5 linked regions of the Homo sapiens genome follow. The protein of the gene in region 1 interacts with the protein of each later gene in a biochemical or structural test. Each region holds a gene or a part of one and is shown in the gene's direction. Other genes may lie near its edges.

The links.
Region 2: the proteins of UBE2J1 (region 1) and RBX1 form a complex in vitro, tested with the Homo sapiens proteins (one study listed by BioGRID).
Region 3: of the proteins of UBE2J1 (region 1) and MAPKAPK2, one has a biochemical effect on the other in vitro, tested with the Homo sapiens proteins (one study listed by BioGRID).
Region 4: the proteins of UBE2J1 (region 1) and UBA1 form a complex in vitro, tested with the Homo sapiens proteins (2 studies listed by BioGRID, with this or other methods).
Region 5: the proteins of UBE2J1 (region 1) and BIRC2 form a complex in vitro, tested with the Homo sapiens proteins (one study listed by BioGRID).

Annotation. Positions count from the first base shown.
Region 1 is NC_000006.12:89,341,549-89,347,978, reverse strand, and holds part of UBE2J1 (ubiquitin-conjugating enzyme E2 J1), read left to right. Parts: intron 1-4,222; coding exon 4,223-4,296; intron 4,297-5,523; coding exon 5,524-5,655; intron 5,656-6,430. UniProt on the Homo sapiens protein: Catalyzes the covalent attachment of ubiquitin to other proteins. Functions in the selective degradation of misfolded membrane proteins from the endoplasmic reticulum (ERAD) and is essential for cells to recover from ER stress.
Region 2 is NC_000022.11:40,963,769-40,970,198, forward strand, and holds part of RBX1 (E3 ubiquitin-protein ligase RBX1), read left to right. Parts: intron 1-278; coding exon 279-349; intron 350-4,030; coding exon 4,031-4,116; intron 4,117-6,430. UniProt on the Homo sapiens protein: E3 ubiquitin ligase component of multiple cullin-RING-based E3 ubiquitin-protein ligase (CRLs) complexes which mediate the ubiquitination and subsequent proteasomal degradation of target proteins, including proteins involved in cell cycle progression, signal transduction, transcription and transcription-coupled nucleotide excision repair.
Region 3 is NC_000001.11:206,686,571-206,693,000, forward strand, and holds part of MAPKAPK2 (MAP kinase-activated protein kinase 2), read left to right. Parts: intron 1-6,430. UniProt on the Homo sapiens protein: Stress-activated serine/threonine-protein kinase involved in cytokine production, endocytosis, reorganization of the cytoskeleton, cell migration, cell cycle control, chromatin remodeling, DNA damage response and transcriptional regulation.
Region 4 is NC_000023.11:47,200,329-47,205,394, forward strand, and holds part of UBA1 (ubiquitin-like modifier-activating enzyme 1), read left to right. Parts: intron 1-565; coding exon 566-672; intron 673-947; coding exon 948-1,038; intron 1,039-1,149; coding exon 1,150-1,282; intron 1,283-1,827; coding exon 1,828-1,925; intron 1,926-2,029; coding exon 2,030-2,176; intron 2,177-2,309; coding exon 2,310-2,486; intron 2,487-2,614; coding exon 2,615-2,719; intron 2,720-2,805; coding exon 2,806-2,886; intron 2,887-3,212; coding exon 3,213-3,368; intron 3,369-3,939; exon of another isoform or gene 3,940-5,066. UniProt on the Homo sapiens protein: Catalyzes the first step in ubiquitin conjugation to mark cellular proteins for degradation through the ubiquitin-proteasome system.
Region 5 is NC_000011.10:102,359,241-102,365,670, forward strand, and holds part of BIRC2 (baculoviral IAP repeat-containing protein 2), read left to right. Parts: intron 1-3,655; coding exon 3,656-3,734; intron 3,735-4,427; coding exon 4,428-4,476; intron 4,477-6,430. UniProt on the Homo sapiens protein: Multi-functional protein which regulates not only caspases and apoptosis, but also modulates inflammatory signaling and immunity, mitogenic kinase signaling, and cell proliferation, as well as cell invasion and metastasis.

The DNA of each region.
Region 1 (6,430 bases):
CTGAGGCATGGTTTTGAGTTAGGAAGAATCATTGAGAAGGCCTTATATACCAGTCCATTTTCAACCTTAATGACTCAGGGACTGGGCAGGAAGGAGGGGTGAAAAGGAAAGGAGAATTTTGTGGAGAAATTATTGACTCTTATTTGACAGATGTAAACATCAGATCAAGTGACTTGTTCAAGGACTTAGAGCTACAAAATGTCAGAGTCAGAATTTTAATGCAGCTCTAAATCGAGTCCCTGTTTCTTTTCACTGAAGCATTCATAATATATGTTATTTTTGCAAAAAAAATAGCTTATGGAAACAAGAGACTAATCTCACCTTTTGGCTACATGACCTTAGCTCTTACATGGTATGTGCCTGAGTGACTTATGAACTAATTAGCTATTTAGCTGTTGAACCAATGATTGTTCCTTTACAGGATTGGTACAGATACATTCTTATAACAATTCTGACCCTTTATACATCTCTCATAATATCCAGGTACAAGTTTTGAGTGTTTATTTTCTTCTCTCCTGTTGAACTGAACTGAGTAGGGAAGAGGCAGAGAAAATGCGATAAGGGTATAGAATGACATAAAATCTGACTTCAGCTTAATCATTATTGAGTTCAGCCAGTTGACGAGGAATGAAGGAAAAACAATCTTTTTGGCATCTCCAAACTAATTAACTTCATAACAGCTTCCATAATTGCATTTCTATCTAATAATATTAACTTAAAGGAATGATATGTTTATGTGGCTTTAAAGCAGGGTTTTCCATCTTTGTTCTATGGGTCCCTTCAGGAGTGAAATGGAAGGACAGGGAGTAGATAGTCCGCAGGCCCTTCCACTGGCCTCTGCAACCAAAGCGGCTCTGTGGTTTTTGTTTCACCTGTTGGGGTTCTCATTAAGCTTTCTTTGAATGAAGGATTTTGTTTTATTAAATAAGTTTAATTGTTTTATTAAGTAAGTTTAAAAACCATTGCCTTTAATCGGATTCTGAGAGCTATGTTGAGAGAAGATAGTAAAATTTAATTCAACTAATATTTGAGTACTTACCATGTGCTAAGCCCTGAGGAGACTGTACTGCTACAGCTACACTGTCATTACTATTGCTTAGCAGGAAAAACAGATATTAAACAAGTAATTACAAGTGAGATGAACTTCATAAGAGGAAAAATACAGTGTTATGATGGCATAGAGCAAGGAGACTCAACCTGGTCTCTAGGGCAGTGGTTTCTAAACCTAACCAGAGTAATTCAGAGAGCATTCCTAGTCTCTACCCCTCCCTAGGACGCCTCAGAGATTTTGATCTGCCCAGATTGAAATCTCCAAGCACTGTAGGGGGTGGGGGGCAGGGGGCAACCAGGGAAGGTGTCATAGAGACATTCCTGAGAAGTTACTTAAAGGTCTAGGGTAGCCAGACTAGACGGTGAGGCGGAGGATGGGGCCGGAGCAGCCTGGGCCCTGAGGAAAGCTGTATAGAAAGGCTGAGAGTGGAGGGGAGGTAAAGTGTGTTCAGGGAATTGACCAAAGCCCAGTCTCTAGACTTGGAGGGAGAGGGTGTCTCAGTATGTACATATTTCTAATATAGCATTTATCATTCTGTTTTGTATTGACTGCACCTCCCAGCCGTCAGTCTTTAGTGACCAAAGCCATATTTTGTTTACGCATGAAGCTGTAGCATCTAGTACCTAGTAGGAACTCAAGAAATAGTTGATGATCCAGTGAACAAAGTCTCTGCATATAGGGGCTTAGTTCAGAGTAAGAAATGGAAAAGAATATTAATAATTGTGAAGTAGGATAGTAACAACTTTTTTTTGGCCAGGCATGCTGATTCCCGCCTGTAATCTCAGCACTTTGGAAGGCTGAGGTAGGAGGATTGCCCGAGACCAGCCTGGGCAAGACAGGGGGACCCCAGCTCTACAAAAAATTTAAAAATTAGCCAGGCATGGTGGTGCATGCCTGTGGTCTCAGCTATTGGGGAGGCCAAGGTGGGAGGACTGCATGAGCTTGGGAGGTTGAGGCTTCAGTGAGTGAGCTGTGTTCGTACCACTGCCCTCCGGCCTGGAGGGCTTTTTTTTTTTTTTTTAGACGTAGTTTCGCTCTTGTTGCCCAGGCTGGAGTGCAACAGCACGATCTCAGCTCACTGCAGCCTCCACTTCCTGGGTTTAAGCGATTCTCCTGCCTCAGCCTCCCTAGTAGCTGGGATTATAGGCATGTGCCATCACACCAGGCTAATTTTGTATTTTTAGTAGAGATGGGGTTTCACTATGCTGGTCAGGCTGGTTTCAAACTCCTGACCTCAGGTGATCCACCTGCCTCGGCCTCCCAAAGTGCTGGGATTACAGGCCTAAGCCACCGTGCCTGGTTTTGTTTGTTTGTTTGTTTGTTTTATTGAGATAGTCTCTCTCTGAAGCCCAGGCTGGAGTGCAATGGCACGACCTCAGCTCACTGCAACCTCCACCTCCTGGGTGCAAGCGATTCTCCTGCCTCAGCCTCCCGAGTAGCTGGGATTACAGGCGTCCGCCACCATGCCTGGCTAATTTTTGTATTTTTAGTAGAGACAGGGTTTCACCATGTTGGCCAGGCTAGTCTCGAACTCTTGACCTCAGGTGATCCACTCGCCTCGGTCTCCCAAAGTGCTAGGATTACAGGCATGAGCCACCACGCCTGGCCTCAAATGCAATTTTATGCAAAAGTCTTGATACATACCAAACCATTGTGGTTATATACATGTAGGGGTTCCTTCTCAGTTAATCTCTCTCCCCATAACATTCCAACCTGTGCCTCTACACATTTTACTTTTATTATTACCTCTTCCTATTCATATCTACCTGGGGAGTTTCTACTGTTATTTCTTTCACATTCAGTACCTGACTCCTTTTCTCTTCCATTTGCTCTAAAGTTAGATGCCCAGCCTGTCCTCCCAGCATCTGGTGCATACCTCTCTTTTGAGCTACATCAGTGGTTGCAAACCCAGTTTTGAGAAGCCTTTTCCCTAACTCAGCCATCCCACTGCAGTATCCTGACATGTTTTAGCACCAAAAGCTTGAAATGAGAGGGGTTGGGATCCAGAGTGCATATCAAAGGATTGAATTTTGAGAGCCAATAGAAGACAGAGGGTGCAGATACAGATAGGATTGTAGATTGTGATAGGCATCTGAGCAGCTCCTGCTAGCAGTCATTCATCAGGGAGATAAAAAGCTGGGTGCCATTAACTGAAAGAGAGGAGAAATTAGACTAGGTGGGAAATAATCTTGGAGTGCTAGGTGGAAAGAGTAGGCTGGAAGGCCTACTAGAGAAATGTGGGGACATTAGGTGGCATTGTATCCCAGTAGAGGTTGTTGGTAATGACTTGTAATGGCATTACTGCACCATCCTCTCTGACTTTTTTTCCTCCTTTCAGTGATGCTCAGCTGTTTGGGTATAGACAGCAAATAAGATGGTTGGGTTGGGTCAGGCACAGTTGGATTTTATTAAGGGAGTGTACAAGAGGGACTCCTAAGAGCCAAGGGTGTGGATAAAGAGGAAAATGAATATAAGTATAGGAGGGGTGAAGAAAGTTGTGGGGTCAGTGGACTGGAGGTTTTAGTGAAGCTGAAGGATCATTTCAAGAAGGAATTTCATCGGGGCTTTGGAGAGTCAGTGAATTCAGGGGACAGTCCATTCATTTAATGCAAGATAGTGGATGGAAAGTCCCAAGAGTTGGAGGATATAGAGGTGTTTCCTGTTCACCGAGCATGAGATCCAGAGAATACATTTTTTGTTAATAAAGACATTTTAACAGGTAGAGCCAAATTGCCTGTGTTGGAATCCCATCTCTGTCATTTACTAGCTGTGTGACTATATAATCTCTCCGTGTCTCGGCTTCTTCATCTGGAAAATGGGGATAAAAATAATACCTATCTAGTAATGTTGTATTAAGGGTTAAATGAGTTATTAATGTCTGTAAAAGCACTTCAATAAATACCACCATATAGGAAGTATATATAAGTACTTATTAAATAAAAATAGTGTCTTCACTATATATTTAATATATAACTCTTTTAAAGTGTTAATGCCTAGCAACTGTTTCCTTCCTCTCCCCCTCTATTTATTCCCATAATCTTATAATTAAACCTTTGCCATATGCTCATTTGCACTAGTTCTCTACACATTTTTTCATTAGGCTCGTAAGACTGTGCTAATCATTCAGAAAAGTATATTTTAAATATCTCTATTTTATGAATTTTATTTTAGCTGTTAAACGTTTAATGAAAGAAGCGGCAGAATTGAAAGATCCAACAGATCATTACCATGCGCAGCCTTTAGAGGTTAGTTTCTATCTCCATGTTCTTCATATGGATTTTAATATTTAAAACAAATTTTTTAAAATTGCTTTTCATTGCTTTGAGTCATTACAGATGTGTGTGATGTAGTTTGACGTTTTATTCACCATATTTCATGAATATTTCATTAGCCATTCCAAATCACTTTAGAAGAAACGGATTTTGTGGTCTTTATAAAATGGGTCTCAGATGCTAAGTTGAGGTTAGATCTTTTTTTTTTTTTTTTTTTTTTTGAGGCGGAGTCTCACTGTGTTGCCCAGGCTGGAGTGCAGTGATGTGATCTCGGCTCACTGCAACCTCTACCTCCCAGGTTCAAGCAATTCTCCTGCCTCAGCCTCCTGAATAGCTGGGATTACAGGCCCCCACCACCACGCCCGGCTAATTTTTGTATTTTTAGTAGAGACAGGGTTTCACCATGTTGGTCAGGCTGGTCTCAAACTCCTGACCTCGTGATCCACCCGCCTTGGCCTCCCAAAGTGCTGGGATTACAGGCGTGAGCCACTGCACCCGGCCGAGGTTAGATCTTGAGTCTGAGGGAGGGGAGGTGGAAAGAACCCCAGATACTTTACAGTTTGGAAGCCTTTTGATGGGTCTCCGTAGCTACTCAAGGCTTTTTGTATAAACATCTCGGCCTCTCTCAGTCTTCTCATTTGTAAAAGGAGGGTATTTAAATATACCCAGGCAGGTTTTCATGGTAACAGTGGGAATAAAAATATCATAACTTAAGTGCAAGTATTTTGTAAACTGAAAAGTACATGGTAACTGTAAGATGACATTAAATACATTAGTATTACCATTTTATAAATAAGCTCTTAGGCATCTATAAGGGATAATTTTTAAAGATTTGTTAAAATAACCCAAACATAGTAATTTTTTGATTATATAATTATCATAATTTGCTATTCTTTCAAGGATTAATTTCCAATTTAAACCTGTAAGTTACTTATGAATATATAACAACACTCAGAAATTTTTAATGTGTTTATTATAAAATATTTTAGCTCAATGGAACATGAAAGCTAGATTAAATAGCTTTTACTTATAAATTTAATTTATCACTTATAGTCTCGAGACATCTCATGCATTAGAAACTATACTAGCAATAATATAAAGCATTTAATTTTTCTTGCTTGGTAATATTTCTAATATTCAGATAAAATGATCAAACTTTTCAATATTATTAATTCCTTGTGGATTATTGTTTTTGTTCAGGATAACCTTTTTGAATGGCACTTCACGGTTAGAGGGCCCCCAGACTCCGATTTTGATGGAGGAGTTTATCACGGGCGGATAGTACTGCCACCAGAGTATCCCATGAAACCACCAAGCATTATTCTCCTAACGGTAAGAATTTTGGATTTTTAGAGTGCTTGTGGCTTCACTCTTCCTGGTAGCTGCAAAATATAGTAAGCAAATCATTTTCATTAAGAAATAATAGAACAGTATAATTTTGCTTTTGGGGTCCAGGCCCTGGGACTACAATTTTTTTCCTCCAAAATAATTCCTAGGAAGCTGATGCATCTGAGAAGTAAAAATGATACAACTGAATGCATAAATGTCATATCATGGTTGTTAGGATTCAATGAATTAATATATGCCAAGTGCTGGGCATACACATCTGGCACTTCATAAGTACTCACTAAAGGGTAGCTAATGTTATTGTACCTTGTAATCATATTGTCTCCTTTAACTTCCCACCTTTCTTACACTCTCTTCCTCAGTTTTCTCATCTTTACAATGAGAATAATGATACCTACCTCATTGAGTTTATGTGGGATGAAAAGTATCAAGATCTTATTGTATAGCTCTTAGAATAGAGCCTGACACAGAATACTCAATAAGTGTTAGCATTATTATTACTGTTTATATCTCAGATTTTCTCTCTTTCTCTCCAAATTTACACATCTTTTCTTCATGTGAAGGAAAACTTTTTTTTTTTTTTAAGAGACACGGTCTTTCTCTGTTGCCCAGGCTGGAGCGCAGTAGCACGATCATAGCTCACTGTAGCCTCAAACTCCTGGGCTCAAGCTATCCTCCCACCTCAGCCTCCTGAGTAGCTGGGACTATAGGCACATGCCACTGCACCCAGCTAATTAAAAAGTTTTTTGGTAGAGACATG
Region 2 (6,430 bases), on another chromosome or scaffold:
CCAGGAAGTCAAGGCTGCAGTGAGCCATGCTCATGCCACTGCACTGTAGCCTGGGCAACGGGAGTGAGATGTGCATTTCCCATTTGTTACTCTTTTTAAACAAGGATAGGAAATCGTCAGAAAGCATACTGTTATCTCTGTCTTCTCTGTTCTTCCTTTCCCACATTCATTAAAAAACAATTATGGCTAATTAACCACTTGAGAATTGTTTTGGCTGCTATAGATTGAAACGTTGCTGCTCCCAAGGTCCAGTGATCCTGTTGCTCTTGTTCCCACAGGCATAGAATGTCAAGCTAACCAGGCGTCCGCTACTTCAGAAGAGTGTACTGTCGCATGGGGAGTCTGTAACGTAAGGAAGCATCTTTACCTGTCAGCATGGCTTGTAAACATATTTCCACTTTTCCTGCTTTGCTAGTCTTGAAAATAACTAGGGAAAAAAATGACTAGTCCACCTTTCTCCCAAAAGGTATACAAATAGTAAAAAAGATTTTAAATCATAATACTATTCACCTGTTACAGGGTAAAAATTACAGTTACTGCAAAGAGGCACTTATTTGTCTTAATTATAAAGTGGACCCAATTTTGTTAGCAGTATTTTGGGGCTTCATCTATGGGAATTGCCTTCAAAACCTACATGCACCCTTTGGAATATTCTCGTGGTAGAACTTTGTACCTTTGAAACAGGCTTTTTTAAAGACCAGGTGTCTAATGGAACTAAGTTTGATGAGTAAATTGAGTGTTGAAGTCTCTGTGTATGTGTGTTTTAAGTGTGGCGTATGTACTGAGATAAGATTATTTTTTAACATGGCTTATGCCAGAAATGTTTTGTGTAGCTTTATTGGACTGAATGGCCTTCCAAGAGTGTGACAGCTGTGAAGGATAACAAATATCAAATATGTTAGTTCTAGCATGTGTTAAAAATTCATTCTTTAAGCTGTAAAGTCCCAGTCACATGAGCTAAAATTGTCTTGTCAGGGCCTCCTGTGTCATGGGGACAGAATACTCACAGTTCCCAGCATGACACAGGGATAAGAGATTCTAGAGTCAGACCACCATTCCCTGTCTTTGTGACTTACTTGCTAAGTGACGTTAGGCAAGGCATTTAACGTCTCCAATCCTGGGTTCCCTCATAAAATGGGGCTGATAGTGGACCACATAAAATTGTAATCCGGATTAGATGATTTATGTTAAAATGTGATTAAACAACTCCCGGCACATAGTAAGCACAAGTGCTTGTTAAAAAAAATCTAAATAGGCCGGACGCGGTGGCTCACGCCTGTAATCCCAGCACTCTGGGAGGCCGAGGCGGGTGCATCATGAGGTCAGCAGATGGAGACATCCTGGCTAACACAGTGAAACCCCGTCTCTACTAAAAATACAAAAAATTAGCCGGGTGTGGTGGCAGGCGCCTGTAGTCCCAGCTACTCGGGAGGCTGAGGCAGGAGAATGGCGTGAACCTGGGAGGTGGAGCTTGTAGTGAGCCGAGACCACACCACTGCACTCCAGCCTGGGTGACAAAGTGAGACTCTGTCTCAAAAAAAAAAAAATCTAAATAAATACAAATTTGAGGTAGAGGTGTTACTGTGTAGATGGTGTTCTCAGTAGTTTTTCCTGTTGGGTTGCAACTCTTTTTCCTACCTACACTGGTTTTTTGTTTTTTTTTTTGTTTTTTGTTTTTTGTTTTTTTTTTGAGACGGAGTCTCACTATGTGGCCCAGGCTGGAGCGCAGTGACGCAGTCCCGGCTTACTGCAACCTTTATCTCCTGGGTTCAAGTGATTGTCCTGCTTCAGCCTTCCGAGTAGCTGGGATTACAGGTGTGTACCACCACACCCAGCTAATTTTTGTATTTTTAGTAGAGATGGGGTTTCGCCATGTTGGCCAGGCTGGTCTTAAACTCCTGACCTTGGGGCGATCTGCCAGCCTCGGCCTCCCAAAGTGCTGGGATTACAGGCGTGAGCCACCGTGCCCAGCCCCTACCCGCACTTTCGGGTACACCTTCTTCCATCTTTGTTGGGACCCTTTGGCCAGGCTCACAATAGACCATGTTGGCCATGGGGGAGCTTTAATCGTTCATGGGGATAAAGGAAGTATATTGGGCTCTTTGCCCTTTCTGGCATACAGACATATACTAAGAACCATGTTCCTTTATGTGGAAAGAAAAGAGAGTGAACATCCCCTTAAATTTGGCTAAGGAGAGATTCTCTGAGAGAGCCTGCCGTAGAAGAGAGCCAGCATGGTGTGGCAGAAGGCTCTGGATTAGTCCTGGGTTCTAGTTCTGGGTCTTCTACAAACCAGCTCCATGAATTAGGCAAGTCACTTGTCTGGGTTTCAGTTTCCTGTCTGTAAAATGAAGATAAAAATATCTGTCATGCTTGCCTGCCAGGGTTGATGTGAGGCCTCAAATGAGGTAATACATGTCAACATCTTCTGTAAACTGTCAAGTACTATAAATTTATCTTCTGTAAATTGTACTTTGACCGCTAAATATATCCATTAATACATCTTAGTAAATGTTCAGGGGTGCTGTCACCTCCCTGACACCTCCTTTACAGCCCCCTTTTCCCCAGCGCGTGGTATGCTCTGACTTAGTTGGGCTCTACCAGGACACCGTACTGCTGCAAAGTGCTCAGTGGGTGAGGTGGGAGAGGGAGAAGCTGTCGAATACCCTTCGGTGAGCCCGACCCCAACACCTGATGGTTAAGAAAAATGTCTCTGCTTTCTGCCTTTTGGAAATTTTGCTCTTTCTCTTTTTCACAGTGAGTTATACAAGAGTCAGCTGAAAAGGGATCTTCCAAAAGGCTGTCACTCTAAGAGAATATTTGTCCTCTTGGGTATCCCTAGTGTACTAGCTGTGGATTCCACTCTTAGTTACTGAATTATATTTTTGTCTTTGTCAAAAAACATTTCACAAGATAATAATCCATATTATATAATCCCTTAAGTTCCATACATACTTTGGGAGACGTACCGACCAGATTTCAGTTGTTATTAAATGAAGCTTGTAAAGCTTTTGTTGTTTTGTTAGGGTGAGTAATTTCTGCCCGTGCCCCACCACAGTGCACCAATCACAGACGAAATGAAGGAAGCACTTGCTGCGTCTGTCCTAATACGCACATGAGCAGGGGGAGAAGTGCTCATTGCAGAAGCATTGTGATTAGCATCTGCATGTCATGAGCCCACGCCAAAAAACTGCATGCAGATTGTCCTTTTCCCAAATCTAAGCAGACTTCTAGCTCCCTGTCAGTTACCAGTGTTCTTGATACTCTTGTCTTTTTACTTCTTGTCTTGATTATGAAATAAGCCTTTTGATGCTCTTTAGGCTGCTTGTGTGCCGTTTGTCCCTCATAAGAATACTTCCTTTTACCCCAATTTTCTTTTATCTCATTCCCTAAGACAAAGTCCCTCACCCATTAAAGGCACGTGAAGTACTGAGCTCTTGTAATATCAATATGTCTGTGAATAAATCTAGAAATAAAGTTTCTTTGACCAGAGCTGAGCTGGGTGTGGGGAGGTTGGGGAAGTGCCCGTCTCAGTTCTGGGTGGGCGGCAGTGACCATGCACTTCTCTACCAAGGGCTGGGGAGAAGGCTCTGCTCCTACAGGTCGCATTCTCCAGGGGCAGGAGGGTGGGAGGGAAGCTAGAGACCCAGAATGGGGATATTTGAAATCTGCATTGATGAGGGGCCTCCTTTCCCAAAGAAAGTGGAAGTATCCCCTTACAGGCTGAATGGGACCAAGGAGCCACATTCCACGTTCTCTTAAATAGAAGAGAGCTCAGTGCTGGCACATACTCCTGTGCTTCCTGAATGATTTCCTTTAGTAGTAATGACATTTCTAACAAATGCTTTGTTGGAAATACCCTTGCATCTAACCAAGATATAATCAGTTGTTGAACTTTTGCCTCTCGTTGTCTTCTTTTCTTTTCTTGCCCACTATATGTCACCCATGCCACTACCCTGTGGGACCTGTTGTCGCTCGATGGCTGAGCCTGCATAGAGTTATTTTTAATAAAATATATGTTTTCTTTCAGCATGCTTTTCACTTCCACTGCATCTCTCGCTGGCTCAAAACACGACAGGTGTGTCCATTGGACAACAGAGAGTGGGAATTCCAAAAGTAGGTATCTTTGGTTGTTTTGACGGGGCTTTTTGACTTGCCTCAGGCTGAAAGGAGCGTGGTCTTGGGGGATGGAGACATGATACATGCCTTGTTTTTTTTAAAACTAGTTTTTGGTTACTTAAGCTAGGACTTATCTATATGGAAAATGCACAAAGGATTAGCCAACATTAGACATTTGCAGCCTAGGGTTTCCCAACCTTTTTTTTTTTTTTTTTTTTTTTGAGACGGAGTCTCGCTTTGTTGCCCAGGCTGGAGTGCAGTGGTGCTATCTTGGCTCACTGCAACGTCCACCTCCCAGATTCAAGCGATCCTCCCACCTCAGCCTAGCAAGTGGCTGGGATTACAAGTGTGTGCCACCATGCACAGCTAATTTTTGTATTTTTCGTAGAGATTGGGTTTCACCATGTTGGCCAGGCTGGTCTTGAACTCCTGATCTCAACTGATCTGCCTGCCTCGGTCTCCCAAAGTGCTGGGATTACAGGTGTGAGCCACCGTGCCCGGCAGGTTTCCCAACCTTCTACGGTCTGTGAAAGTAGAAAATGTGATAATCTATGAACTCTTAAATATTTCCAGAATTACATCCTAATGAGGCTCCATGGACTACCTAATGTCAGGTAGCTTTGGGCTAGACTTGTATCCACTTATCATATTTCACTGGTTTATTTCACAGTGATTAATTCTGATATAGCATTTATGGCTATCCTGATTAGATTTTATTGTTATATAAATAAAACATGACCTGGTAAACTTTTAAAAATTTAAATGGTTGAAAGGGTATACCACAGAATATGAATTTCCCACTGTAGGCCCCTGCTCCGGCTTGCTGGAGCTAGCCATCAGCAACAGGACAGCTTCTTAGGAGATTTTCTGACTATCTCTTATATGTCCCGGTATTTACATGGTTGTGTGTATATATATATTTTTGTTAACATAAAAGTGAGTATCCTATACAGTAATTCACCTTTTTTTTTTTTTTCATTTTGTACATTTTGGAGATTTTCCATTTCCACAAATAACAAACTACCTCATTTCTAATGGTTGCAGAGTATTTCTTTATGTAAATGTACCTTAACTTTTTTCTTTTCTTTTTTTATTTGTTTGCATGTTTTTAACATTTTTTATATTTTTTAAAAAGTCAGTCCCTGGCCAGGCACGGTGGCTCACGCCTGTAATCCCAGCACTTTGGGAGGCCGAGGCAGGCGGATCACCTGAGGTTGGGTGTTCAAGGCCAGCCTGGCCAACATGGAGAAACCCCGTCTCTACTAAAAATGCAAAATCAGCTGGGCGTGGGGGCACATACCTGTAATCCCAGCTACTTGGGAGGCTGAGGCAGGAGAATACTTGAACCCAGGAGGCGGAGATTGTGGTGGGCTGAGATCGCACCATCGCACTCCAACAAGAGCGAAACTCCATCTCAAAAAACAAAGTCAGTCCCTATTGGTGGACATTTGTGTTTCCAGTTTTTCACTGATGCAAGCAATGTGAAGGGAGAAACATCCTTATACATGAAGCTTTGTGTAAATGTGTAGCTGTATCTGGAGCAGTAATTCCTAAAAGAGGAATTTATGGGTAAAGAGTATGGCTGGGCTTGGTGGCTCACACCTGTGATCCCAACACTTTAGGAGGCCAAGGTGGGCAGATTGCTTGAGTCCACTAGTTCGAGACCAGCCTGGTAACATGTTGAAACCCCATCTCTACCAAAAAATAGTAAATTAGGCCATGCCTGATGGCTCATGCCTGTAATCCCAGCACTTTGGCAGGTTGAGGCAGGTGGATCATTTGAGGTCAGGAGTTTGAGACCAGCCTGGCCCACATGGTAAAACCCCGTCTCTACTTTAAAAAATACAAAAATTAGCTGGGCGGTAGTGGTGCATGCCTGGAATCCCAGTTACTCCAGAGGCTGAGGCAGGAGAATCACTTGAGCCTGGGAGGCAGAGGTTGCAGTGAGCAGAGATCGTGCCACTGCACTCCAGTCTAAATGACAGAGTGAGACCCTATCTCAAAAAAAAAAAAAAGAAAGAAAATTAGCTGGATGTGGTGCCATGCACTTGTAGTCCCAGCTGCTCTGGAGGCTGAGGTGGGAGGATCGCTTGAGCCCAGGAGGCGGAGGTTGCAGTAAGCTGAGATCATGCCACTGCACTCCAGCCTAGGTAATAGACCCAATTTAAAAAAAAAAAAAAAAAAAAGCCCAGGTGTAGTTGCTCACACCTGTCATCCTAGCACTTTAGGAGGCTGAGGTGGGTGGATCACCTGAGGTCAGGAGTTCAAGACCAGCCTGGCCAACATGGTGAAACCCCCTCTCTACTAAAAA
Region 3 (6,430 bases), on another chromosome or scaffold:
CCCCTGGGGTGTCTCAATGATTGGAGGAGGAGAAAAATACTTCCTGTGTTATATTTTTCTCTTCCCCTTCAGCCCCCACAGCGAGCTGTATTTCAGTTGTCAAGTACAAAACTCAGAAATGTGGTATGGGTGGAACTATTGGAATATACGATCAGATGTTTTAAAAGAAACACCAGTACTTCGGGGTTGTACGGGGCAAGCATGTTCCATTTCTAGATTTTAAGGCCTCTAGAATTGTTTTCCTGCTGCTCTCATACTCAACCCTGTTACAGTGCTTTGCTTTCTACTGTAAGTTATTGCTCTGGGATCTCGGTTGTTGTTTAGTGTTGACTGTTGGAGAGGGGATAAGTATCTTCAACACTTCAACATTTGTGTCTTAGACTTCTCTTTCCCTACTCATAACTGAAGGGAAAGGAGGAGGAGGAGTTGTTTGGATTGAGCATGGCTCTGACCTTGGGGACTGGAGTTGGGTGAATACAGTTTGACCACAGTTAACCTGTATCATTGAGGAAGTGACAGACGGTCTTTACAGGAGTGTTTGCTGTCCCCTCTGAGACACCATCTGCCTTCACCCATTAGTAGTTTGGGGACACTGGCTGTTCATTCTCTTGGATATTTGGAATATTATGTAAAGACTTCAGAACAAAAGCTCCCAACTTCTGCTCTGTATTCTGTTTAATAGACACACGCACAAAATCATCCTATAAAATGCTTTTGAGTGGCAATTCAGATTTCTCTTGTAACTAACGAGAGAGAGGTTTACATATTTTTCTACTTTGAATAGTTTTGGAAGGAAAAATCCAGCAGCGTGTTAAATAACACTCATAGTTTATCCCTCTCAGGTTAGAAGTGGGCGAAGAGTGAAGTCAGTCTGTTTTGACAGGCAGCCTGCTCCCAGATCTTTTAAGTTGACTCAACTGTTAAATTGTGGATTTCCCACACACGTCTTTGTGTTAAAACTTAATAATGGAGGAAGAAAGGAGAGACAAGGCATTTGGAGACTGACAGCAGTGTTAACAGCACTTCCATATCCAAATATTGGCTGAGACATAATTACAGCTGTGGGGGGAATCTGGTTCAAAGAACGCTGTTCCAGAGACACACACCAAAGAGATTTCTAGATCTTGAATTTTGATTAACCTCAGGTGCTGAGTAGTGAAATGGTTTTCAAAACCAGAAGTCTAGTGATTATAAAGCAGGAGAGGAAGATGGAGTGGGGCAAGAGGGATTACCCCCTTGGGAAGGTGCCTGAGAAAAGGGGAGGAGACCTCTATTCTACAGTGTGCCGAGGCCAATGCTGGGGGCTAGGGCAGAGCTGGAGGGCAGGAGCCCAGCCTCTGCTGGGGTTCAGAAGTCTGCTATGTTGCAGCCCTGAGAGTTGATGGGAGCTGGCAGCTGCTTAGATGCTCTCCTCTCTGCCTATAGTCGGTGACCTCTTAGCCCTGTTAAGTGAAATCAGCATTTGAAAAAGAGTCCCAGCTCACCCTGCTGCTTCTCTCCCTCCACCTCAGAGAGCTCCCATTTAAATGCTTTTGGTGGGTGCTTTGACCTCACCTCACCATCTCTCCTGGCTGCTTTTGCTAAGTTCTGAGTCATGCTTCCAGTCAGAGTTGCAAGGGACTTGAAAGGTCATTTTGTCCAGCCCCCTTATTTTGCAGAAGAGAAAACCAAGGCCCAGAGTGAGGGAGTGACTTGTTCAAGGTACCATAGCCATTCACTTGGCAGAGGCAGGATTGGAACCCAGGTTGCCTGACTCCCAGTCTCAGGCTTCTTCCCACTTACTTCCTAACTGAGCCACGGGCTCAGGCACATGGCCACCTGCTGCTCCAGGGTGCTTCCAGCCTGAGGAGCTGTTCTGTCACCTCAGGCCCTGACTGACAAGAGGGGAGGTCAGCGAAGGGGGCTGGATGGGTATTTGCTGCTCCTGAGAACAGTCCCCAAAGTTGGAGGGGAACTTCAACAGTAGCTTCATGCATTTTTTTAACCACTCCCTCCCCCTTTTAAGAGAGTATTTGATAGGCACCTTACTTACTATTTTTTGTACAAGAACATGGGAATTCTATTATTTTTATTTTTATTTTTTTTGAGACAGAGTGTTGCTCTGTCGCCCAGGTTAGAGTGCAGTAGCACGATCTTGGCTCACTGCAAGCTCTGCTTCCCAGGTCCACGCCATTCTGCCTCAGCCTCCTGAGTAGCTGGGACTACAGGCGCCCGTCACCATGCCCGGCTAATTTTTTGTATTTTTAGTAGAGATGGGGTTTCACTGTGTTATTCAGGATGGTCTTGATCTCCTGACCTCGTGATCTGCCTGCCTCAGCCTGCCTAAGTGCTGGGATTACAGGTGTGAGCTACCGCGCCCGGCCTGTATTACTTCTTTGATAAGGACACCTAGTCTCAACCCACTTGTGTATTAATTAGTTGTATTCCCCGGGAGGGTTCCTCAGCTGCTTGCCGCTTCACTGTGTCATGGTGACCCTTAGGTGTTAGCTCAACAAATTTAATTAAAGACTGTATCGTTGTTCTCTGCTGTGCAACTCTGATTAGGTGAAGCATGTTACTGCTTTATAAAATATAGAATGTTGTCGTAACTTATCTCTGTGTATCTTTCCATTGCGTGGATTAGAGAAAACAAGGTCCTGTAGTTTCTTTTCCTTTCCTTTCTCCAGCATTCCTCTCTCCCTAGGTCATGGAAGTGCCACTGCGATGTGGCTTCCTTTGTTCTGGTGAAGGGGAGATGATTGGAGCCTCTCATGATTATTCTGGATGCTGTTGGAGGGAAATGCCAGAGCTCCCACATCCCCACAGTACAGGCACCATCTCCTTTCCAACACACCTCATACTGTGTACCTGTGGAGGGCAAGACAGTTAGTGTGGCTAGGTGAGAGGCAGTGTCCCAAACTGGAGTTTGCTGGAGTTGTCACAAGGTTAGGAAAATTTCATTGACCAAGCCAGCCTCTTTTATATGCAATATGGTTACAGGTAGGTAACAGTTTGCTGAATATCTATCATAAGCTTAGTTGCATGGAGGATACACATGTAAAAAATGGCCTGTAAAATTTTGAGTCAAGAAACTTATTTAGAGAAGGTGAAATTAACACATGTAGGCTAGGGCTGCACTGTCCAATCTGGTAGCCACTACCCTCACATAGCTAATTAAATTAAAATTAATTAACATGAATGGATTAAACTAAATTAAATTTGAAAAATCAGTTGCTAGCCACACTTCAAGTGTTCAGTAAACATGTGGCTAATGGCTATCGAATTGAACAATGCAGAAGAACATTTTCATCCTTGCAGAACGTTCTCCTAGACTTTGTTGGTCTGGGAGCTAAATCGTGTGGCTGGGAATAGAGGAGCTTTGAAAGAGGGGAATCTGTGGTGACTCCAGGAGCTAAGGGAGGCTCCAGCTGGGGTCAGTGGGACATGGCTGTGCCTCTGAGGAGTGAGCAAGTCTGTGAGAGGTGTGGTGACATTGGCCTGGCTAGAACTGAGGGGAGGAACAGGAGGTCAGAGTGGTCAGGGGTTGGTGGCTCCAAATTGAAGCTAACTCATCTTGTGTCAAAGCAGGCTTTAAAGTGTTTGAGGGGCATGAAGGTGTCAAAAAAGGTTAGGAATCATTGAAGATGGGCTTACAGAATTATGAGGGAAGGGTCAGGTTTGTGGTTTCAGAGATCCTGTCCCTCCTGGCCGTAGCCCTGACCCCAGCCCTGACCCCTGGCTCCTGCAGCAGGGCCCTTGGCATCCACTGAGGCAAGATTGAAGCTGGGTCAGCTCACTGTCCTTTTTTACTTGTGAATTCTGGGCTTTGACTGAGCTTGGAGACAATCTCCAGCTAAGATACGGGATCAGTGGCTGACAGGAGGGGAGAGACAAGCAGTCCCTGGGCCTTAGGGCCAAATATTGGTGGGTGTCTAGGAAACAAAAGAACCCCTTTGTGGGAGGAGGAAGGTATTGGGACCTGTGATGTTTCTGCTACTTGGGACCTGAGAGGTTGGGCCATCCATAATTGATGATTTTTCTTATGAAGCAGGTACAGGGGATTGGGAGGAGGGCCTGGAAGAGCCCAGCCTCAGAACTGCTGGAGGCAAACTTAATCCTTGGGCTAGGGGAGGGGCCAAAGCTCCTGTTAGCCAGAGCCCAGGAGTGTGCTGAGTGGGTGCCAGGAGGAATGTCAGCCAAGATGGGGAAGAGCAGGGCACAGTCGTCTGCATCTGAGCCATTGCCCAGTTCCCAAGCAGCCTTGCCATGCTCTGAGCTGGGGTTCTTCCTGGTGGCGTGATGTCTGTGGTGCAGGATTCACTCTATTCTCCTACCTTTCCTCTACTTCAGGCCCTGCCAAGTGTCATGTGAGGTCTCTTTTCCCCCTCTTCCCTGCACTGTATCTTTCCAGATGGTTCTGTGTCCTGGAGGGAGGTGGATGGGCAGAGAAGAGTTGTTCTTTGCAGGGACTGCAGCTTTTCTTGGTAATGGTTTGAGGCCCAGTGGCAAAGCAACCCACACTTCATAGTAACTTAGAACCCACACTCCCTGGTCATCTTTCTTGACTCCTTGCACATCACTGAGGAAGAAGCTGGCCTAGTGCAGAAATGTTCAGTGGCATGTCCAAGGTCTTACATGGTGTCAGCATCCGAGCCACATCTTGAGACCTGGTTCCCTGGGACCTGCTCTTGGTCTGGGCCCCTTTGGTTTTTGGTTGCTAGAAGACTGTAGACCTGGTGGAGCAAAACTGAGCTCCACTAACGCATCAGCTAGGATCTTTCCACATGGGTTACCTTGTAAATGGGGGCATTGGTGAAGAGAAGGGGCCATGTCACTGGACAGTGTAATAACGTATGGCAGTTATAGAACCCAAATCAGATTGCTGTGTACCTTTTCTAGTTTTTAGGAAAATACTGGTATTTTGTATTTTAAGATATATATATATATATATATATACACACATACACAGATATAGATATGTAGAGATGAGCTTGTTACCATGGGTTATGTGCTAGATAAGAAAGCAAAAATAAGTGCATACATAAATAGAAAGCTTCCAGTGTTTGTATGCTGCTAACAAGTTACATGACCTTGAATAGGTCAGCTAAACTTTCCAGGCCTCATTGCACAGAGGGTCGGCTCGAGCAGCTCCTGAGCACCGGCAGGGTGAGGCAGTAGAAGGCGGTGCTGCAGGCCAGAGGTGGAGGGCAGGCAGGATAGCTTGCTGACTTGCTCCGGGTCTGACCATCAGCAGTATCTGGGTCAGCACAGATGCCCTTTCGTAAGCTTAGTGCCTGGCTCCAGGGCAGCCTGTGTCCAGTTAATGAATAATCATCACTGACCAGCTGCTCCTTCTCTTGTGTGAAGACTTAGAAAGTGTTCTATGCTGGTGACTCGGCAGAGAGGATAGACTACGTAATTTAGCAGGGTGTGCATCTTCTCTTTCCTTAAAATCAGAAGAATCATAGTGTAGTGGTGGTGCAAAGTAGAGATGAGGAACTCTATTCCCTGTTTGAGATTCCTTTCTCAAGTTATGGGGCATTTGAGGGCCACTGTGATTTCTGGTGCAGGCTGTTCCCTGTGCACAGGGATCTGGTTGAGGAGCTAAGCGAAGGCTGAAGTCCAGCCACTGTCTCCTTGCTTGGCTTTGTCTTTGTGTGTGGCTGGGTTCTTTCAAAGGAGTGCCTTCTAATTCACCAAAGGTATGGTTATGGATTAGGGGTTGTTCTTAGGTTAGAGTTGGGGACTGATTCACAGAGCTGATGAGGAAATTAGGATTTACATTCAGGTGACCCTCAGCCCCTCAGACCAGGCTGAGTAAGAAGAGATATCAGGAATCCAAGGAAGCAGGAGGAAAAGGGGTTGCCTGGTGATGTCTGTTCTCTTTCCTCCTCTTCCTGCCCATGCAAGGCTAGAGCAGCTGTTTCAGCCCCGGAGGTTTAGACTGTGGGGTCCTGTGTGCTGGGCCATCAGGTTTGGTGGGAGGAGGAAGAAAGCCACAGTAGAAGGAGACATAAAGTTGGGCTGGGCCTCTGGCAGTGAAAGGTTCTTGGGGTCTTTATTGTCTGATCAGTAAACACCTCTGTGTGCCAGAATGAGCTGGGACAAGGCCCCAAGGTCAGCCCATATTTGTATCTGGTGTTCTCCTCCAAGACCAGCCAAGCTGTGCGCTCATTCTGCTGGGAACCTGAGCCCTCCAAAAGGGTCATATGAAAGGGCATCTTATTCTTGAGGGACGTTTCCAAGCATCTCTGTGGCCAGTGTCCATCCAGGACTCATCTTAGAGGTGAAGAGTGGTGGCCAGAGGCGGAAGCTAGTGGCCACCCGATGGGAGCCTTTTCTGTTTCAGAGCATATGAGGGAGCTGAGGGAGCTGTACTGTTGATGCCTTCTCTCTGGCTCATCTCCATGAAGATTCTTTTGAACCAGAAGCAAAGGTGAAGTCTCTCTGA
Region 4 (5,066 bases), on another chromosome or scaffold:
TGGATGGGTGTTTGTTAATTAAAAAGTCCAGGCCGGAAAGAGGTGCTCTGGAAGCTGAGAGTTGTCCCTGGAGTATCCCAGGTTGCCAGGGCACTGCAGCTAAATCCTGATGGAGGAGTAGGAGCTCACCCTGGTGGGGAAGGATGGACATTCAGGCAGAGAGCAAAATCCCAAAGATCATGGCGGAGCAGGCGTCGTCTTGAGAATTGGAAGCAGGTGGGTGTGGTAGGAGTGAGCTCAGACTTTGGCTGGAGACAGAGTTTTACTCCAGTGTCTCACAGGGCATGGCAGACAGACAGCAGCGGGTGTTTGTCAAATAAATGAGTCAGCTCTTCTCCAAACTCCCTCCTCCCAGCTACCTCTTCACCTTTCCTGGTATAGTCCAGGGGTTCATTTTCGACCCCCACAGAGTCTGATACACAGTAGGTGCTATGTGTTTGTGAAAGAGGCTGACCCAGCAAAGCCTGGATGTGTTTGCCTTGAGGACTGCCTGAGTCCTCCACACCAGCCCTCCATTTTTTCCCCTTCACCCCAATGCTGGGCCTGAGCCTCCATCTCTCCACAGGTGGTGGTGCTCACCAACACCCCCCTGGAGGACCAGCTGCGAGTGGGTGAGTTCTGTCACAACCGTGGCATCAAGCTGGTGGTGGCAGACACGCGGGGCCTGTTTGGGTGAGTGGCAGCCCACCTCCCTCCCTGTCCCCTTTTCCCCCAACTCCTACCAAGCCCAGGCCAAGACTCTAGGCTCTCCCTGCCCTCATCCCTTCTCAGCTACCCAGGTTTTGGGTTCTGTGTTTTCATCTCTCCCCATGTGGCACAAGTACCATCTTACATCCCAGCAGTGATAGGCTGAGTTTGCTCAGCAAGTTTTCACTACATCTTGAGGGACCCGTGGGACCTGTATGTGCATGGGACACAGGCACCAGCCCTATTGCTTCCCTCTACAGGCAGCTCTTCTGTGACTTTGGAGAGGAAATGATCCTCACAGATTCCAATGGGGAGCAGCCACTCAGTGCTATGGTTTCTATGGTTACCAAGGTAAGGAGACCAGCCCTAGGGTTCCTGGCAGGCAGGTGGGCTGCAGTAGTCCTTCCTGTCTGCTCTTGGTACCCTGGGCCTGTTTCTGAGACTCACTCTTCCTTTAACCAGGACAACCCCGGTGTGGTTACCTGCCTGGATGAGGCCCGACACGGGTTTGAGAGCGGGGACTTTGTCTCCTTTTCAGAAGTACAGGGCATGGTTGAACTCAACGGAAATCAGCCCATGGAGATCAAAGTCCTGGGTGAGCTGCGACCATGGGGGAAGCAGAGGGGAACTAGAAGATATGTTCCTGGGTTCTGGCCGGGGAGTTGAAGGGAGAAGACATGGCCCTTGGTTCAGAGTTGGGAAGACACATCCTGGTGTTTGAGATGAACTACAGACAATCCTGTGGGGTCCAATAAGAGCTGGTGGGCATGGGGGAGAGGTACTGTGTTTGAGCTATTCCTGGGAGAATGTGTCCCTGGTATCTGAGCTGAGTGGGGAAAAAGTCTCTGGTGTTTGAACAGGGCAGATCAGCGGATCTACTTGTGTGTGAGCTGATTTGGATGGGAAGCAGAGAAGGTCTTCCCGTGTAGACTTGGAGCCAGGGACACAGGGTCTCACGGGGTCTGAGCTGAGTCTGGGGCACAGGAGAGATGGTTTCTGATGTCCAAGTGGAGCCTGGAGCTGAGGGAAGACAGCTTCTGATGTCTGAGCTGAGTCGGGGCAGGAGGTTCCTTATCTTGCAGGGGTTGTGGATTTTAGGGAGAATGGGTAGACTGACAGCTCTCTTCCTGCCCTCTGTAGGTCCTTATACCTTTAGCATCTGTGACACCTCCAACTTCTCCGACTACATCCGTGGAGGCATCGTCAGTCAGGTCAAAGTACCTAAGAAGATTAGCTTTGTGAGTGTGTCGATGGGATCAGTGGGCTGTGGGGGGTGGTTCTAGGCATTCCCTAGTTCTCCATTCCTCTCTTCTGGTTCTGATGACCTCTCCCCCCGCCACAGAAATCCTTGGTGGCCTCACTGGCAGAACCTGACTTTGTGGTGACGGACTTCGCCAAGTTTTCTCGCCCTGCCCAGCTGCACATTGGCTTCCAGGCCCTGCACCAGTTCTGTGCTCAGCATGGCCGGCCACCTCGGCCCCGCAATGAGGTGGGTGAGTGGGCGAGCCAGCCAGCGCAGACATGCCTGGCACTGCAGGCTCACCATGCCTCTCTGCGTGTCCACACTCCCTGCCCTCACTGTGGCCTGACATATCCTCTCTTGGTTCTTTCTGGCCCACCAGGAGGATGCAGCAGAACTGGTAGCCTTAGCACAGGCTGTGAATGCTCGAGCCCTGCCAGCAGTGCAGCAAAATAACCTGGACGAGGACCTCATCCGGAAGCTGGCATATGTGGCTGCTGGGGATCTGGCACCCATAAACGCCTTCATTGGGGGCCTGGCTGCCCAGGAAGTCATGAAGGTCAGCACGGGTGGGGAGAGGCAGGATTGGGGTGGGCCAGGTTCCTCCATGACTCTGTCACTTGCTCTCTGTCTGTGTCAGGCCCCTGTTAACCACTGACCACCCCCTCTCTCCCTTCCCCTCTCCAGGCCTGCTCCGGGAAGTTCATGCCCATCATGCAGTGGCTATACTTTGATGCCCTTGAGTGTCTCCCTGAGGACAAAGAGGTCCTCACAGAGGACAAGTGCCTCCAGGTATGTGGGTGGGACCTGTGGGGAGGGCATCATTGGGGACATTTCTGGGGAGGCCTCTCTAACCCTCCTCCCTTTGCATTCCTTAGCGCCAGAACCGTTATGACGGGCAAGTGGCTGTGTTTGGCTCAGACCTGCAAGAGAAGCTGGGCAAGCAGAAGTATTTCCTGGTAAGTGGTCCCCTTGGATGTCTGCTCCCCTCATCTTGGCCTCTGGCCATCACCCCTGGGGCTTCCTTCGGCATCTCAATGCAACCGGTGGCGCATTCTCTTTGCCATTCTCCTTATCTTGAAGGGAAGCCCAGTGCATCCCTCGTTTCCCCTTCTGGTGCCTCCTTCCTCACATGACTGCGTGTCATTTCTTAGAGTCCTGCAACCTGAAGATGTGGTGTTAGCCCCTCTCCCCGTCTCTCAGGGGAGTGAGGGGTGATGGGTAGCTTCACACTAACCTGCATCACCCTGACCAGCCTCTGCCTGTCTTCTTGGTTGCTTCTTAGGTGGGTGCGGGGGCCATTGGCTGTGAGCTGCTCAAGAACTTTGCCATGATTGGGCTGGGCTGCGGGGAGGGTGGAGAAATCATCGTTACAGACATGGACACCATTGAGAAGTCAAATCTGAATCGACAGTTTCTTTTCCGGCCCTGGGATGTCACGGTGAGTAGGGTAGGAGGTTGGGGCTTTGTCGTCTCACTTTCCTCCTTTTTCTTTTTTTTTTTTTTTTTGAGACGGAGTTTCGCTCTTGTTGCCCAGGCTGTAGTGCAGTGGCGTGATCTCTGGCCCACCACAACCTCTGCCTCCTGGGTTCAAGCGATTCTCCTGCCTCAGCCTCCTGAGTAGCTGGGACTACAGGCATGCGCCACCACGCCCGGCTGATTTTGCATTTTAAGTAGAGACAGGGTTTCTCCATGTTGGTCAGGCTGGTCTCGAATTCCCGACCTCAGGTGATCTGCCTGCTTCAGCCTCCCAAAGTGTTGGTATTACAGGCGTGAGCCACCACACCTCACCCCTCCTTTTTCTTGTTCCCATTCTTTCTGTCAGAGATCTTTCTGCCTCTGCCAGAAGCCCTTCTTTTTGGCCTTTCTTTCCCTCAGCTTCTGTTTTTTTTTTTTTTTTTTTTTTTTTTTTGCCTTAACCTCTTTTTAGTGCTGGTTGGGACAGTGTGTCTGGGGTCCTCAAAACTACTCTCAAGCTCAATTCACCTAGAGTACTTACAGGACTCAGCATATAGTCGTGCTTGTGGCTACAATTTATTACAGCAAAAGGATACAGACCAAAATCAGCAAAGGGAAAAGGCTGGTGCAAGTTTCTAGGAGTCTTCTCCCAGCGGGAGTTAAACAAGGCGGCCTTTATTTCCCCAGTAGCAACAGTAACTACAGAAATAACAGCAACAAGGTGTAACAAGACATGAAATGTTGCCAACCAGGGAAGCTTGTTAGACTCAGCACCACCTCTTTTACTTGGGGCTGGTCATGTAGGCGCCCCCTTCCTGGCACATAACAAAATTTCCAGACTCCCAGAAGGAAAGGTGTTCAGCGTAAACTGTATTGTTTGCATGAACGGTTTAGGCACAGTGAACCACTGATACCAGGTAGGGAGCGGTGGGAACCTTCCTGAATTCCAAGTTCCCAGACACCAGCCAAGGAGCCGACCTTGGAAGCAGGCCTTTCCAAGGGTTGTAGTTTCAGTCTCCTAGGCTTACACTTCTCTGCACATATGGAAACTGGGTTGGTTATGCAGGGTTCTCTGAGAAGCTTTCTGTAAGGAGCAGTGTCGTTTTTGCTTACCCAGGATTTATTCCCCCTTTCATTTATTTCATTTATTCACCAGATAGTTTTAGTACTGTTTTAGGTATTGGGGATATACCAAGGAATAAAACAAGATTCCTGGAGGGAGAGGGGAACGGACAGCAAACAATAGACACAATACGATCGTGAGGTATATAGTTAATGTTGGTGATGAGTGCTCCTCAAAGGAAACAACTAAAACCAGACAAGGGAAGTCGGGGTGTCAGGGAGAATGGTTTGTAGTATTGATGACAATGGTTAAGGAAGGCCTGAGTTCTGCAAAGACCTCAAGGATATGAGGGACTAGAGTGCCCTCTGCTGTGGAAGAGCCTGCGCAAAGATCCTGAGGTGGGAGGGGTCAGGGAGCCAACTCATTTTACGGTAAGTGGAGGTGGGATCCAGGGGAGGATTCTGAGCAGAGGAGGGACGTGGCCCAATTTGGGCTTTGAAAGGATCCTGCTTGTCTGTGTGCCAGCATCCTGGTGGTGGTTGGGGGAGTCTGCATCAATCCTGGGTGCTGTTACCTGAAAAAATAGCAGGTGTTAGACGAAAGAACAGATGTCTGGCC
Region 5 (6,430 bases), on another chromosome or scaffold:
CCCTCCTGCACATATTTTATGTTTTTGATGTCATTATTTGCATTTTATATTGTGTATTCATGAAAAAATTATTGAAGCTATAGTTATTTTTAATACTTTTTTTTAAAAACCTGTATTTTAGAATTAAGTAATTTACACATGACCATTACAAATTTAGTATATTATTAATTTGATTATATATTTATCTTAACAGTGAGTTTCATACTTTCATATGTTTCCATGTTGCTAATTAGTGTCCTTTCATTTCAGCTTGGAGAACTCTTCAGCGTTTCTTGTAAGGCGCGTCCAGTGGTGATAAACTCCCTCAGCTTTTGTTTGTCTGGGACTGTTTATATCTCTTTCATTTCTGAAGGACAGCTTTGCTGGGATACATATTCTTGTCTGGTAGTTTTGTCTTTCAGCACTTTGAATATATCATCCAACTCTCTCCTGGCCTACAAGGTTTTTGCAGAGAAATCCACTTGTGGTCTTATAGGGTTTCTCTTGTAGAAGATGAGTTTCTTTTCTGTTACAGTTTTAAAATTCTCTTTCATCTTCTATTTTTGCCAGTTCATTATAATGTGTGTCAGTGAAGTCTTCTTTGGGTTGAATCTTTATGGGGTCCTATGAACTTCCTGTACCTGGATATCTTTCCCTAGATTTATGAAGTTTTCAGCATTTTTTTTTTAAATCAGCTTTCTGTCCTTTCTCTCTTTTCCTTCTTGAATTCTCGGGTTTGTTTTTCATTTTCTTGGGTTTTTTTTTTTGATGGTGTCTTGTTCTGTCACCCAGGCTGGAGTGCAGTGGCATGATCTCAGCTCACTGCAACCTCCACCTCCCAGGTTCAAGTGATTCTCCTGCCTCAGCCTCCCACGTAGCTGGGACTACAGGTGTGCACCACCATGCCCAGCTAATTTTTGTATTTTTAGTAGAGACGGGGTTTTGCCATGTTGGCCAGGCTGGTCTTGAACCCCTGACTTCATGTGATCCACCCGCCTCAACCTCCCAAAGTGCTGGATTACAGGTGTGAGCCATCGTGCCTGGCCTTGAATTCTTAAAATGCAAATATTGTTTTGCTTGATGGTGTCCTATAATTCAGGTAGGCTTTCTCCACTATTCTTTTTTTTTTCTTTTTTTCTCCTCTGACTAGATAATTTCACATGATCTGCCTTTGAGTTCACAGGTTCTTCTGCTTGATCAGGTCTGCTATTGATGCTCTCTATTGCATTTTTTGTTGTTATGTTCTTCAGCTCCCGAATTTGTTTCTTTTTATTATTCCTATCTCTGTGTTGAATTTCTCATTTGTTTGTATATATTTTTTTATTTCATTATCTGTGTTCTTTTGTAGCTCACTGAGTTTGCTTGAAACAATTATTTTGAATTCTTTATCTGTTAGTTCATAGATCTCCATTTCTTTGTGGGTGATTACTGGAAAATTACTGAGTTTCTTTGCTAATGTCACGTTTCTTTTTTTTTTTTTCTTTCTGTTTCTTGTGGCCTTGTGTTATCTGTGTATTTGATGGACGAATTACTTCTAGACATTACAGATTAGTGTGTTTTTTTTGTTTTTTTTTTTGTGGGCAAAGATCTTTGCCTGTGGGTGAGGGTGAGGGTGAGGGCGCCAGCCAGTAGGTGTGGTGGTTCTGGCTCTGTGGAAGGCCCAGCATTGTGAACTCCATGCAGCTCCATTAGCCCAGATCATTGTCAGTGAGGATTGCAGGGGTCCTCAACATCCAAGGCTGCAGGTATCCATACCAGCAGCAAGGCTTTTTTTAGTCTATAGTGGCAGAGGCTGCTGGGGACCTCTTCATCACTTTTTCTCCCATGGGAGACATTGTGGCCAAGGGGATTCTTCTTGGCACAGGTTCTGGCTTTGGGCTTGTTGTGTTGGTGGAGGTGGCAGCACTGATGTCTCTGATGGCGTGGACACCTGTGGAGCAGCTACAGAGCCAAGGTTTGGAGTGCAAGTGTTTGCAGAAAGACAGCGGGTCTTGGGTTCAGGATGTTGACTAGCCTGCAGCAGTGGTGCTTCTAGTGCCTCAGATGTGGGTGCACGTAGAGCAGCCTTTGAGTTGGGTGCGGAGTGCAGGTGTGCAGAGCAGCCAGAGAGCTGGGATCTGGAGAGTGTGTGATTAGAGCAGCCACAGAGCAAAGGTCTTACATGAAGGTACATGTGAAGCAGCTGTGGCTCTGGGGTCTGGGGCATATGTGGGGGTTAGGGGCTGCACTGTCTGGGCAGTGCAAGAGCTGCTTTTTTTCAGGGTGAGGAGTGCAGTAGTGTCTCCCTCTCCAGGGGGTTCACAGCAGCAATGGGTGCTGGTTACCTTAATGGTGAAAGCTGTCAGTGTCCTCTGCAAAGTAGGCTACTGGGGTTGGCATCAATGAACACTATAGGGTCCTTCACTGTGAAACCTGCAGGAAGTCTGTGGCTATCTTGAGGGTTATTGGAGGTCTCCAGGGACCTGCTCTGGGGAGGAGCCTAGCAGTCTTTGCCACTGAGGACTGTAATGGCACTCACCACATGACTGATACAGGTAGCCCTCACCCCTTGTTCTTAGCCATCTCCAGATGTCTCTGCTAAGCAGATCTCCCAGCAGTCCTTTCTGTGTGGTTATTCTCCCTTTTTTTTTTTTTTCCCTTTATTGCTGTAGGCTGATTGGGCTAGTGAGTTCTTCCAGAGCTGTATTTGTGTATAGCTGTCTGTTTGTTGTTTTTTGTGGGTGGAAGAAGGCTGATGTCTCCTAGTCTGCTGTCTTGCTGATGTCACTCTTGCAAACTTTCAGTCTGCGGCTTTTCATTTCTTTAACATTGTCTTTTGAAGAGCAGATGTTTTCAATTTTGATGATGTCAATTTATCAATTTTATCTTTTGTGGAATATGTTTTTGGTCTTTTGTCTAATAATTCTTTACCCAATGTAAAGACAAATAAAGACAAGGCTTTTTCCTAGAAGTTTTATTGTTTTTGGTTTTATATTTAGGTATATGATCCATTTTTACTATTTTTGCATATAATATGGGCATAGGTCAGTGTTCCTTTTTTTTAACATATGAATATTCTGTTGTATAGTATCATTTATTGAAGAAACAAAAGGAATAGAATAGATATAGATGGTATGTGAACTTCTTGGAACATCTTTGAGAAGCCCTATCAGTTTAAAAACAAATATTTGAGAAACACTGTCATATTATATATAGATAAAAATATTTGATTCCATATTTTTTGGAGGGAAGGTAGTGGATTCTGGCTCAAATGTAATGGAAGAGTGAACATTGAAGAAAAATGAGCAGTTATTGTATTGTGAAAGATCACATTTTAGGAATACTGAGTTAATAGTATCTGAAACTGTTAAGTAGTTCACTTTAAGCACAAAATAGATTGTGTATAATAGTGTTCTTCAGGAGTCAACTTGTTCCCCTTTGTAGGTGCAGACGCTTTTCTTTTTGTTGTTGTGTTAATGGATTGAATTAGAAAATACCGTGATATATAACACACAGAAGGATGTATATTGTTTTATGATAATTTTGTTCCTGTTAGATATGTATGTGTTCTGGGTTGTGACGTAAAATGTTTTTACTATGGAGTACAATGAAAGATTTGAAAGCCATTTTTCTAGAATGATCAGGTTATATTTGATATGAAACAATTTTAAAAAATAATTTTCCTCATATGTTTTAGGTGTGAGTTCTTGATACGAATGAAAGGCCAAGAGTTTGTTGATGAGATTCAAGGTAGATATCCTCATCTTCTTGAACAGGTAAATACATTTTTAAAATTAACAACATTGAATTCTGCTTTATAATAACAAAAATATTATTAGGTTGGTATAAAAGTGATCATGATTTTTGCCATTGAAAGTCATGGCCAAAACCGTGATCACTTTTGTACCAACCTATATTAGAAGTTATGCTTATTTCTCTTTTATTAATTGTAGGTACATACTTTCATCCATGTTAATGACATCTTTGGTTTTTACTTTTGTAACCAACTTGATTTTTGAGGGCTTTTTAAAAAAGATTGTTTTTTTGTTTTTACTATTTTGAAAAATCATTTATGCTGCCACTGTACAAATTTGTGATGGGATTGGAGAAGGATCTTTAGTGTCTCTTTGCTGTTTTCCAGAAAAACAAACAAAAAATAACTTGTTAGGAGCTGAGACCCTTGGAGAGTAACCCAGTTAAAATCTTATTTTCCAAATGAAATGAGAAACCACTGATACATTTTTCTACTTTCCTGAAACTAGAGAAATACTTGATTTCTAATTTGGGATGACATGAAATTTAAGGAAATCTATGTGATTAGGGTAAAAGAAAGCAAAGCAAAGGTCATAAATCACTCAGTTCTCAAAAGAACATATACATTTACTTAAAGTAAGCTTATTTTAGTGTTGTTCTTTTCAGATTGTTGGGGATATCTGCTTTTACCTATTAACTTTTCTCTTGTTTCATAGCTGTTGTCAACTTCAGATACCACTGGAGAAGAAAATGCTGACCCACCAAGTATGTATGAGATAATTTTAAGTATAGAGTGTAAATTTTTATAAGAATTTTAGGAATAGGCTGGGTGCAGTGGCTCATGCCTGTAATCCCAACACTTTGAGAGGCCGAGGTTGACAGATCACCTGAGGTCAGGAGTTCGAGACCAGCCTGGCCAACATAGTAAAACTCCATCTACTAAAAATACAAAACTTAGCCGGGTGTGATGTGCCTGTAGTCTCAGCTACTCGGGAGGCTGAGGCAGGAGAATTGCTTGAACCCAGGAGGTGGAGGTTGCAGTGAACTGAGATTATGCCATTGCACTCCATCCTGGGCAACAGAGCGAAACTCCATCTCCAAAAAAAAAGGTAGGAATGAAAGTATGTATTTTTTAAAAGAGTTTCTGAAGCCATAGGGAAAAATACTGGGAAGTCAGCTAATAAATATTATATATATATATATATATATATATATATATATATACACACACACACAGAGAGAGAGAGAGAGAGAGAGAGAGAGAGTGTAATGACACTGTGGAGGACCCTAAAAGTGTACTAGTTTTTGTTCTAGTGCTATACTTATCACTTTTAGTGCTGACATTCCAACTGGAGAAATGAGACATAAGCAAAAGAAAAACAAAAAATAGTTCAAAGCAATGCCAAATAAGCGGTGCAAATAATAAACCCTCCAGAAAAGAAGAGTTTGCTGTGAGTTGGCATGATTTGGAAAACGTCAATTCACATATGATTCAAGAATTGGACTAGATGTTAGGTATTTAAGTCAGGTATGTTGTATTTCAGTGCAAGGGCAGGAAATAGTATAGCTTTTGATTAGAGCTTAATGTTAGCCACATCTGTCAATTTATGTAATATACATATGTTATTGTGTCTAAAATGGCTAAGGTAGTAATCCCGTTTTATGTGCCAATCACATCTACAAAGGGCCATTCTGTTTGTGGCACAGCATTTCAAGAAAGATTGGCAGATTTGTTAACTGGACCAGAGAAAGGTGACCAAGATGTATGAGTCTTAGAAACCATGGCTCAGGAGGATTGGATGAAGGATTTGGTAGTATTTGACTGGAAAATAGGAAGGAGAGTACTGGAAAATAGGAAGGAGAGTACCTGGGTACATGACAACTATCTCCCGTGTAATAGACCTAGAAAAGATAGATAGCAGTGTGGGCTGTTCTTAAAATTTATAACCACTGCTATTAAGTAGGCTGCCCTGCAGTTCTACCATAGGTCCTAATAAAATCACTTTGTCAATCTTTAAAATGACTGTTTCTTGTTTTCTGTCTTGATAATTTTCTAACACTCTCTTCCCACCTTACTGTCAGTTTATAATCTTGCTTCCCTAAGAAAATAGAATCCAAAAGAGAGCTGCTTTATTGCCTCACCAGCAAAACCACTAGGCTACATAATTTATCCTTGTACTTTTCTGTTTGTTCATAAAAGATGAATTGTCCTTGCCCTTTTCTAAGGCCATTACTTCTACTTGTCCTCTGTATTCCATCCCCTACTGTCAACTTAAGAAGGTTACTTTGGCAGTGACATACCCTTTCTCTCGAGTCTTCAATTTTTCCACCTCTCCTGAATCACTCATGTTAGCATATAAACATAATGTACTTTTGCTAATCCTAGGAAAATTTCCATGAATGAATGTCCCCATTCAGCTATTACCTTATTACTCTGCTTCCCTTTACAACAAAATACCTAGGAAGATTTATCTGTGCTTAACTCTGTTTTACTTCCTCACCTTTCATTCTTTCACTTGTTCTGCTAGAAACTGTTCTTGTCATGGTAACCAGGGACTGCCGTGTTAGCAAATCCACTACTTGACCTGTTAATTAGCATTTGATAATCACTGGGTGCTTTGTCGTTGTTTTTTCTTTTTGTGAAACAAGGTCTCACTTTGTCACCCAGGCTGTAGTGTGGTTAGGTGCCATCATGGCTCACTGCAGCCTTAACTTCCCT